2 separate regions of the Homo sapiens genome follow, and region 1 is linked to region 2. The links come from fine-mapping of genetic effects on gene expression. A gene starts in region 2. The other region holds a variant in brackets. All regions are shown on one strand. Distances are between the middles of the regions. Region 1 holds the start of MPI (mannose phosphate isomerase). Region 2 holds the start of COX5A (cytochrome c oxidase subunit 5A).

What was found. PIP is the estimated chance that this variant, and not a neighbour inherited with it, causes the effect. A credible set is the group of variants that fine-mapping cannot tell apart.
Region 1: its variant is the best candidate, but not a certain one, in a credible set for the expression of COX5A in whole blood (INTERVAL, PIP 0.62).

What each region holds. Positions count from the first base shown.
Region 1 is chr15:74,886,693-74,892,059 of GRCh38, reverse strand. It overlaps MPI (mannose phosphate isomerase), which reads right to left and starts at 2,018. Exons shown (of 8, transcript NM_002435.3): 1 at 1,971-2,018; 2 at 1,406-1,533; 3 at 481-681. The coding sequence starts at 1,986. RefSeq lists enhancers at 1,692-1,771, 1,569-2,102, 1,892-2,191, 2,352-2,401. The variant T/C (reference allele first, on the strand shown) is at 3,280.
Region 2 is chr15:74,935,030-74,940,396 of GRCh38, reverse strand. COX5A (cytochrome c oxidase subunit 5A) reads left to right here and starts at 2,324. Exons shown (of 5, transcript NM_004255.4): 1 at 2,324-2,482. The coding sequence starts at 2,383. RefSeq lists a silencer at 2,071-2,630.

The DNA of each region.
Region 1 (5,367 bases), 48 kb after region 2:
TCGCGCCACTGCACTCCAGCCTGGGCGACAGAGCAAGACTCAAGTCTCAGAAAAAAAAAAAAAGGAGTTTTGATCCACAGTTGCTTAGGATGGGACTCCGGCTTGTGTAGGGAGACTCCATGGGGGTGGGGCTGAGGGTACCTGCCCTGCCTTGCAAGTTGAACTCTTCCTGAAAGCAGATGAGTAAATGGCAGATATGAATAGACATGGGTTGGATGAGGGAAGACCAGGAACAAGCCCCTTGGAATGAGCTTAGAGAAACTCCCCTGGCACAGGCCGGTGAGCTGTTTGCTTAGACTTAGTTGCTGCATGTGTCACTACCATCTGGCTTTGCAGAGCTAAATTGGGAGTTGTCAGCCTGGATTTGGCCTTGGGCAGGAGCCTGGCATGGGTGGGGTAAAAGTGGCAGTAAAAGTCACGGGAGGGCCTTAGCATAAGCCCTTCTGTACCCTGACCTCTGCACCGCACTCTGTCCTTTACCTTGTTAGGGTGTGCCTGGATGGACAGGGGTGTTTCAACTGAGAGCACTTTGAAGAGGAAGGGCAGGTTGCCATTAAAGGTGTCCTTGACCTTTGAGCCCAAGCTGTCCTGGTTCTCAGCAATCCACTGGCTTAGGGTCTTCTGTGAGATGCGGTTGTCAAGGATCTTGGCATCCCCTCGGGGGTGAGTCCCCATCCACAACTGGAAAGACAGGAAACTTGGGAGGGGAAGGGGGAAGAAACCTGCCACCCTGAGTTGGCCTGTCCCAATCCGTTATGCTGTGCTCCCCACAGGGCAACTGAGTCCTGGGAAAGGCCTCCCAGGTCTGGATACAAATGTTCATGCCATCATGGACATACAGGGAGGCAGTAGACCCAGGCCCTTGTCCAGACTCGGCCTCTAGCCATCTATGAAGACTTGGACTAGTTATTTCCCTTCTTTAGATGTATCTTCTTTGTCTGTCCAAAGAGGAGAATGACATCTGCACTGTCAAGGTAGCAGAAAAACTATGACTCTTAAATGATTCTTTCAGGGGTTAACATACATCTTCCAGTTTCAGAAGCAGAGGCGAAAGCCTTCCTATGCTTTGGCTTTTTCTCCACTAAATAGGCAGGAGAAATATTTTAGGTTAATAAAAATGCAAAAAAATAGTCAAAGTAAAAAAACTTAATTGTCAAAGAGGGCTGAATTAAAATTCACTAAGTGCTAAGAGTGGTTGGGGGAAGGAGAGTGCTGGAAATCCCAGCCTATTATGACAAAACCTCTCTTCTTTTTGATAACACTATCTAGTCCATTAGCCTGAAGAGCCAAGTGGGTCTCCTCCCTCCTTGCTGCCTCACCCTTCCCAGCTGATTCTTATGACTTGCCTCAGGCCCTTTCTCCTGACCTGCGGGTAAAGTGGGCTGAAATACAGCCCGGGGCTCACCTCTGCATAAGGCTTGTCCTCTGCGATCTGGGCCAGTGGATCACTGCTGGCCAACAGCCGCGCCACTTCGCTGTTGGAACCCATCTTCCCCCAGGCATACTGCTGCACCGCACAGGAAAGTGGGAATACTAGGGGCACAGACAGGGTCAGCTGCCACTCCACTCCTCAGGCCCCACCCTAGTGTCCCGGGAAACCAGGCAAGAGCTGGGGGTGCTCACTGGGGACAGAGTCAAATAAGGGTTTTGTAGGCTGTTGGATGAGACCCCCCTCCGCTGCAGGCCTCGATGTTCCCAACTGTCAGATGGGCAGCAGTAAGGACCTTGTGCTGATCTGAGGCAGGGTGGCGGGGAGGGAGCAGAAGGTACCTATCCCACGGCACGACGTCTAGAAGGGCCCCCTCCCCTCGGAGGTCAATCCCCATCGCAGGTGGCCACACCTCTGCCCGGCACCCACCCATCTTTCCGCGGAATGCCAGGAGCGGACTCAACCTGGCCGATAATGCCGGGAGTCGTCCCCAGGACGCGCTCCACGAACACACTCGCCGACACCCCAGCCAATGGCTCACCTCGCGGAGCGGCCATGCTCGCCCCCTGCACCAGGATTAAGCACGTATGCCTTTCCCGGCAGCCCCCGCGGCCCTCTGCGCCCAGAGCTTCACGGGAAATGTAGTTCCCTGAGCGTTCCGCCAGGCCCCGGGGCACCCGTGCCCAGAGGCTTACGGCCGCGATCTTCGGTCTCACTATTCATTCATTCTTTCCATCGCCGGGCACAGATGTACTGAAAACCTGCTAAGTACCACGGACTGTTCTAAGGGCTGGAGGATACATCAGAGAGCAAGATAGCCTTCCCTCTGCCTTTGTAGAGCGCTTACATTCTGGTGAAGGCAAGACAGACAAGTATTGTAAGCAAATCATGTAGTATGTTGAAAGGTCAAGGCCACAAAAAGTAAGGGGGCAGGTGGCAGTGGGAGGCAGTTTGCAGAATATAAAAGGCTGTCTGGGCAAGCCTCTTGAGGAGGTGAGGTTTGAGTCCAGACTTGGCGGTGAGGAAGGCAGGAGTGTTCTGCGGGGAGGAAACAGCCACAGCGGAAGCCAGAGCAAGGCGGGAATGTGGGACTGTGCCGGGCGTGTTGGGGAGGGAACTGCTAGCAAGGAGGCCACTGTGGCTGGAGCAGAGTGAGTAAGACAGGGGCAGTGAGGAGGTCAGAGAAGAGAGGAGGGGGGCAGAGCTTTGCAGGCTATTGCTATTGTGAAGACTTTGGGTTTTACTTCGAGTCTCAGCAATTACAGATTTGAGCAAAGAATTGCTGTGATGTGAGTAGGGACATACTAGTGATGATGATGGTAAATGTCACATGCAAGGCCCTTCACTGCTCTGAGCTTTGTAGAATGGGGTGAATAATGCCAGCCTGACATGCTTGTTGGAGGGTCAGATGGGATGACGTGAGACACCTATAAGGCAGTCAGCTCCCTGTGCTCCTCTGATCCTTCCCGTCCCAGGTGCTGTAGAAAGTCAGAACCCCAACTTCTACTCCAGGCTGAGCTGCTTACAAGTTGCACACACAGAAGTCAGGGGAATTACGAAGAGCTGTGCATAGGGAAGGATGGCCTTGGGCCTTGGCTCTGCAGTAATCTTGGCTATATCCTGTGGTGAAAGGCTTTGACATCCAGACCTTCTCAGTCAACAGCCTCCTAGGAGGAGGACAGTCAGTGGCTCAGGCCTGTAATCCTAGCACCTTAGGAGGCAGAGGCAGAAGGATTGCTTGAGGCTAGGAGCACAACAGTCAAAGCTCCGGGGAACCTGGAATGAGGAGTTACAGTCCTGACTCTACCCTCATCACCCCTGCAATACCCTCATTCCCACAGCCTCTACCA[T/C]ATGTGCCCAGGGGAAAGAGCGGGTGCCGTTTTCCCTGTAATCCTCTGCCCAGGTGTGGGTATCTATCTCACCTCCCCTGGGGTCCTCTGGCTCAAATAAATCAGCTTGCATTTTAAAGGAAGCTTTACCATGCACTAAGGAATAATAAAATGGATAATACAAGACTCATGACAGCCCCCCGCCTGGCCAGCCGCCCCGTCCGGGAGGGAGGTGGGGGGGTCAGCCCCCAGCCCGGCCAGCCGCCCCGTCCGGGAGGTGAGGGGCGCCTCTGCCCGGCCGCCCCTACTGGGAAGTGAGGAGCCCCTCTGCCCAGCCAGCTGCCCCGTCCGGGAGGGAGGTAGGGGGGTCAGCCCCCCGCCCGGCCAGCCACCCCGTCCGGGAGGTGAGGGGCGCCTCTGCCCGGCCGCCCCTACTGGGAAGTGAGGAGCCCCTCTGCCCGGCCACCACCCCGTCTGGGAGGTGTACCCAACAGCTCATTGAGAACGGGCCATGATGACAATGGCAGTTCTGTGGAATAGAAAGGGGGGAAAGGTGGGGGAAAGATTGAGAAATCGGATGGTTGCCGTGTCTGTGTAGAAAGAGGTAGACATGGGAGACTTTTCATTTTGTTCTGTACTAAGAAAAATTCTTCTGCCTTGGGATCCTGTTGATCGGTGACCTTACCCCCAACCCTGTGCTCTCTGAAACATGTGCTGTGTCCACTCAGGGTTAATGGATTAAGGGCGGTGCAAGATGTGCTTTGTTAAACAGACGCTTGAAGGCAGCATGCTCGTTAAGAGTCATCACCACTCCCTAATCTCAAGTACCCAGGGACACAAACACTGCGGAAGGCCGCAGGGTCCTCTGCCTAGGAAGACCAGAGACCTTTGTTCACTTGTTTATCTGCTGACCTTCCCTCCACTGTTGTCCTGTGACCCTGCCAAATCCCCCTCTGCGAGAAACACCCAAGAATGATCAATAAAAAAATAAAAAATAAATAAAAAAAAAAAAGACTCATGAAACAACGTACTCAATACCTCGTGCTTTGGAATACCACTCCTTTCCCTCATCTCCACTACCCAAGTGATATGATTTGGCTCTGTGTCCCCACCCAAATCTCATCTTGAATTGTAATCCCCACATGTTGAGGGAGGGACCTGGTGGGAGGTGATTGGATCATGGGGGTGGTTTCCCCCATGCTGTTCTCATGATAGTGAGTGAGTTCTCCCAAGAGCTGATGGTTTTAAAGTGTGGCACTTTCTCGCTCTCTCTCCTACTGCCATCTAAGATGTGCCTCGCTTCCCCTTTGCCTTCTGTCATGATTATAAGCTCCTGAGGCCTCCCCAGCCATGTAGAACTGTGAGTCAATTAAACCTCCTTTCTTTTTTTTTATTTTTTCTTTTTGAGTATTGAGTCTTGCTCCGTTGCCCAGGCTGGAGTGCAGTGGCATGATCTCAGCTCACTGCAAGCTCTGTTTCCCAGGTTCAAGTGATTCTCCTGCCTCAGCCACCCAAGTAGCTGGGTGCACACCACCATGCCCGGCTAATTTTTGTATTTTTAGTAGAGGCGAGGTTTCACCATTTTGCCCAGGCTGGTCTCGAACTCCTGACCTCAGGTGATCCACCTGCCTTGACTTCCCAAAGTGCTGAGATTACAGGCATGAGCCACCGCGTCAGGCCAAACCTCCTTTTTTTTTTTTTTTTGAGATGGAGTCTCACTCTGTCACCCAGAGTAGAGTGCAGTGGCACGATCTTGGCTCACTGCAACCTCCGCCTCCCGGGTTCAAGCGATTCTCCTGTCTCAGCCTCCCAAATAGCTGGGACTACAGGCACGTGCCACCATGCCCGGCTAATTTTTGTATTTTTAGTAGAGACGGGGTTTCACCATGTTGGCCAGGCTGGTCTCAAAATCCTGACTGCAGGTGATCCACCCACCTCAGCCTCCCAAAGTGCTGGGTTACAGGCATGAGCCACCATGCCTGGCCCAAACCTCCTTTCTTTATAAATTACCCAATTCAGGTAGTATCTTTATAGCAGCATGAAAACGGACTAATACACCAAGCAATAGGAACCTTCTCAGATAAGAACGAGGGACTAATGAGGCTCAAG
Region 2 (5,367 bases):
CAACCTCCACCTCGCGGGCCCAAGTGATTCTCCTGCCTCAGGCTCCAGAGTAGCGTGCGCCACCACACCCAGCTAATTTTTGTATTTTTCGTAGAGACGGGGTTTCACCATGTTGGCCAGGATGGTCTCGAACTCCCGACCTCAGGTGATCTTCCCACCTCAGCCTCCCAAAGTGCTGGGATTACAGGCATGAGCCACCATACCTGGCCATGTTTCCTTTTCTCCTTTTTTTTAAAAAATTTTATTTTTGAGACGGAGTCTAGCTCTGTCACCCAGGCTGGAGTGCAGTGGTGTGATCTCGCCTCACCGCAACCTCCACCTCCTGGGTTCAAGTGATTTCTGGCTAATGTTAGTAATTTTAATAGAGATGGGGTTTCACCATGTTGGCCAGGCTGGTCTCAAACTCCTGACCTCAAGTGATCTCCTGGCCTTGGCGGCTCAAAGTGCTAGGATTACAGGCGTGAACCACCGTGCTCGGCCTTAATTTCTTTATGGCCAGCTGTTACATAGAAAGGCAAAGAGAAAGGTTAGAGCAATATTTTTAGGCTTTATGGCTGGCTTTGGGACAAAGGGGTTCTACTTTCTAGACCCCCTCTTGGGGAGGAGGGATTCTAGTTTCTGTGGCATGCCTGGAGGGAGAGTAAGGGGCAAGAGACAAGAGGGCAGAAGGTCAGAGAGAAACTGCTTCATAGGCCTTCACTTTGTGGTATTGTTTTCTAAGCCCCAGCACTAGGTTGGTGGGAAACGGTGAGGGCAGGTGCTTTGAAAACATTTTAAAAATCCTTTTCCCCGCCAGGTTCCTACCCACTGAAGCCACACTGCTAGGGAGGAAAAAGAGAAGGGCAGATGCTGAGGCCCTGGAGAGTCGGCCTGAAGTGAGGAAGTGGCACATGAATGGCCACCTTTTCTTTCCTCAGTGTGCCCAGGGATAGAGAATGGGAGACAGCAAGACAGAATACAATGTCTCATTAACTCTGGGCAGCATCCAGATACTTCAGGCCTGGGAGAGGTGTCCTTGACTGCCCAGGGGCTCAAAGTTAGGATGTAGCTAGTGAGATAAGATGCAACAACTGTGGAACTTGATCAACCCTATTTCAGAGCCATCGTGGATTCAGGAGCCCTCCTGTAGGAGATGGGAAACATTCAGGTGAGAGTCCTCAGAACTGGGGATGTGGCGAAAAGATCCTTGACTGCCAGCAGCAACCTAATTTCTGAGCCTCTTTCCTAATCTGTGAAATGAAGTAGTTTAACTCATTTTTTATGCAAGCTGGTTTGTGATATAAGAATATGTACTAATAAAATCCCTTACGCATAGGCCTTTTTTTTTTTTGAGATGGAGTTTTGATCTTGTTGCCCAGGCTGGAGTGCAATGGTGCGATCTCAACTCACTGCAACCTCTGCCTCCTGGGTTCCAGCAATTCTCCTGCCTCAGCCTCCCAAATAGCTGGGATTACAGGCATGCGCCACCACACCTGGCTAATTTTGCATTTTTAGTAGAGACAGGGGTTTCTCCATGTTGGTCAGGCTGGTCTCGAACTCCCGACCTCAGGTGATCCGCCCGCCTTGGGCTCCCAAAGTGCTAGGATTACAGGCGTGAGCAACCGCGTCCAGCGGCATTCTTTCCCCCATTCGCTGTTTTATTTTATGCCACAATGAGAAGGCGGGGCTAAGCAAAGTAGGTTTTTGTTTTGTTTGGTTTTTTTGAGACGGAGTTTCGCTCTTGTTGCCCAGGCTGGAGTGCAATGGCACCATCTCGGCTCACCGCAACCTCCTCCTCCTGGGTTCAAGCGATTCTCCTGCCTCAGCCTCCCGAGTAGCTGGGATTGCGGGCATGCGTTGCGCCACCACGCCTGGCTAATTTTGTATTTTTAGTAGAGACGGGGGTTCCTCCATGTTGCCCAGGCTGGTCTTGAACTCCCGACCGCAGGTGATCCGCCCGCCTCGGCCTCCCAAAAGTGCTGGGATTACAGGCATGAGCCACAGCGCCCGGGCGCAAAGTACGTATTTTTTATTATAGTTTGTTGTTATTGCTGTCATTCCTATTTTGAGGTGATTAAGTGCCCTCCTGGGCCTGACTCGAACAAGATCACGGTCGGTTGCTCCTCCCTCGCCTCCATTCCTACTTACAGGATGGCAGCTGCACGTCACCTGACCAGAGACAAGGCGGGACGCGAGGCTAACAGTTTGTCCTCAGCGCGCCGCCGTAGCCCCCGCCGCCGCCGGCCGCGCGGTGGCTCCTCCCGCCCACGCGCCAGAGTCGCAGTGGGCGGGCCTACGTGCTCCGCCCGCTGTGAGCCTGTCCGGCCCCCGCCCGCTCCGGAGCAACCCGCGAGCTTACACCGGCTTCTCTCTGTCCTCAGCCCGCGCGCCGCCATCGCCGTCATGCTGGGCGCCGCTCTCCGCCGCTGCGCTGTGGCCGCAACCACCCGGGCCGACCCTCGAGGCCTCCTGCACTCCGCCCGGACCCCCGGCCCCGCCGTGGGTAAGGCCCCTGCTTGCCACTGCCCGCGCCCTCGTGTCCTTGCGGTGACCTGGGTCCCCGCTGCCACTCCGGGGCGGGCTCTCCCCGGCCTAGCCCTTGCCCTACCCTGGTTACTGAACCCGGTGACCGCGGGCCGCCCTGCCCGCCGCCTCGAGTAGTGGAGGACCTGAAAGCGCGCCCCCGGGGCCTCCCCCCGCGCAACTTCCTGGCTGTGCCACCGCGGACAGGTCAGATGTGGACCTGCTGTGGGCGCCGAGGAGGGGACGCAGCGCTCCCCTTCGGTTCCCGGGCCATGACCCTGCCCCAGCGCCGACCCTGCGGCCACCTGACCGAGAGTGGCCGCCGCCGGCCTGCAGCGCCTCGGCGAAGGTGACATTGAGCCTCCGGGCACGCCGCTTGGGGTCCGAGGACACAATATACTTCCGTATGGGACACACGATTATACTTTTCAATCAGGCATTTCTCGGTTAGCGATTAGTGTGTCACCTTCACAGCCTTTTCCATCATTTTTAGGGTCTGCTGTGCCACGTTCTAATTCTTCCACGTTTAAAATAGATGGAAGTGTGTGGTTGTTTCCTGATCTCCGGAAGATAGCCAGAGTTTTGATAGGGCTTATGATAAAAATATCACTCTTTTGAAAACTGAATGTCACAGACACAGGAATACTGGGTTTTACAAGCATAGGAACGCTTCGTGTTTTTTCCCCTTTGTAATAGAAGCCTGATTGCTGGAGTATGAGACGTGCTTCTGATTTTTGTCTATTTTCCTTCCCTTTATATGTGTGCTGGGAGGTTTTGAGTCCACCACCATAGAATAATTACAGTAATTGCACTTCGATCTTGGTCCGTGAAATTTAGCTTCTATGCATGCATATTATATTTTATTTTTGAACCTGCATCACTGGCAACTATGCATGCGTATTTAAACATAAGAACTCAGAAACTCGTTTCAGGGTATGCTGAAGTTAAAAATTAAAAAAAGAACTCAGCCGGGCGCGGTGGCTCATGCCTGTAATCCCAGCACTTTGGTAGGCCGAGGCGGGCGGATCACCTGAGGTCAGGAGTTCAAGACCAGCCTGGCCAACATGGTGAAACCCTGTCTGTACTAAAAATACAAAAAATTTAGCTGGGTGTGGTGGTGGGCGCCTGTAATCCCAGCTACTCGGGAGGCTGAAGCACAAGAATCGCTTGAACCTGAGAGGCGGAGGTTGCAGTGAGCCGAAATCGCGCCATTGCACTCCAGCCTGGCCGACAGAGCGAGACTCCGTCTCAAAAAAAAAAAAAAAAAAAAAAGAATATGTTTTGCTTCATTCATTTTAGACTTTTATCATTTGTCGTAGAACCATAAGGCTGGAGGGTACTTTATTTTTGTTTATTTATTTATTTTTAAATTAGAGACGGAGTGTCCCTATGTTGCCCAGGCTGGGCTTGAACTCCTGGGCTCAGGTGATCCTCCCACCTCAGCCTCCCAAAGTTTGGGATTATAGGCATGAGCCACTGCAGCCAACCTAGAGTGTACTTTAGAGATCGTGGAAGCCATTTTATTTTATAGAAAAGGAAACCAAAGTCCATCTTGGGAAACTGACTCCTTGTTTTTTTTTGTTTGTTTGTTTGTTTTTGTTTTGTTTTGTTTTGTTTTGTTTTTTCTTGAGACAGAGTTTCGTTCTTGTTGCCCAGGCTGGAGTGCAATAGCACGGTCTTGGCTCAAGCGATTCTCCTGCCTCAGCCTCCGGAGTAGCTGGGGTTACAGGCACCTGCCACCATGCCCGGCTACTTTTTGTGTTTTTAGTAGAGATGGGGTTTCACCATGTTGGCCATGCTGGTTTCGAGCTCGTGAGGTCAGGTGATCCGTCTGCCTCAGCCTCCCAAAGTGCTGGGATTACAGGCGTGAGACACCACACCTGGCCGAAACTGACTCCTTTTTAATGGTGGAACCATTTTTGTTTCTTATAGTTATGTTTGGGCCATCCTGATGTTTGTTTAGATTTTGTGTTTTGCTAAAGTAACAGTACAATTTACATTTTTCAGCCGGACACGGTGGCTCACGCCTGTAATCCCAGCACTTTGGGAGGTTGTGGCGGGTAGATTACCTGAGATCAGAAGTTCCAGACCAGCCTGAACATGGCGAAACCCAGTATCTACTAAAAATACAAAAATTAGCCGGGTGTGGTGGCACGCACACGTGGTCCCAGCTTCTTGGGAGGCTGAGGCATTAGAATTGCTTGAACCCGGGAGGCAGAGGTTTGCAGTGAGCCGAAATCATGCCATCTCAAAAAAAAAATTTTTTATTTATTTATTTATTTATTTTTTTTTTTTGGTGATAGTCTCACTGTGTTGCCTAGGCTGGAGTGCAGTGGCACCATCACAGCTCACTGCAGCCTTGACCTCCTGGGACTCAACTGATCCTCCTGCCTCCACCTTCCAAGTAGCTGGGACCACAAGGGTGCGCCACCAGTTTTATTTTCCGTAGAAACAGGCTGGTCTGGGGACTCCTGGGCTCAGGAGTGCCTCCCTCCTCCCACCTTCCAAAGTGCTGGGATTACAGGTGTGAGCCACCATGCCCAGCCAAATTTTTCTTTTTCTTCTTCTGTTGTTGTGGTTTTGTTTTGTTTTTGTTTTTGTTTTTGAGACAGGGTCTCGCTCTGTCATGCAGGCTGCAGTGCAGTTGGCACAGCTCACTGCAGCCTTAACCTCCTGGGCTCAAGCCATCCTTCCACCTCAGCCTCCCAAAGTGCTGGGATTACAAGCGAGAGCCACTGCACCCAGCCTCAGTAACTCGTTAATGTGCCCTCATTCCTACAGTTACCACCACCAAAGTGTTCATTCTTTGGGCCTGTCAGGGTTGATTATTTATTAAATGGAAAACTATCCGATTTAACTAAATTT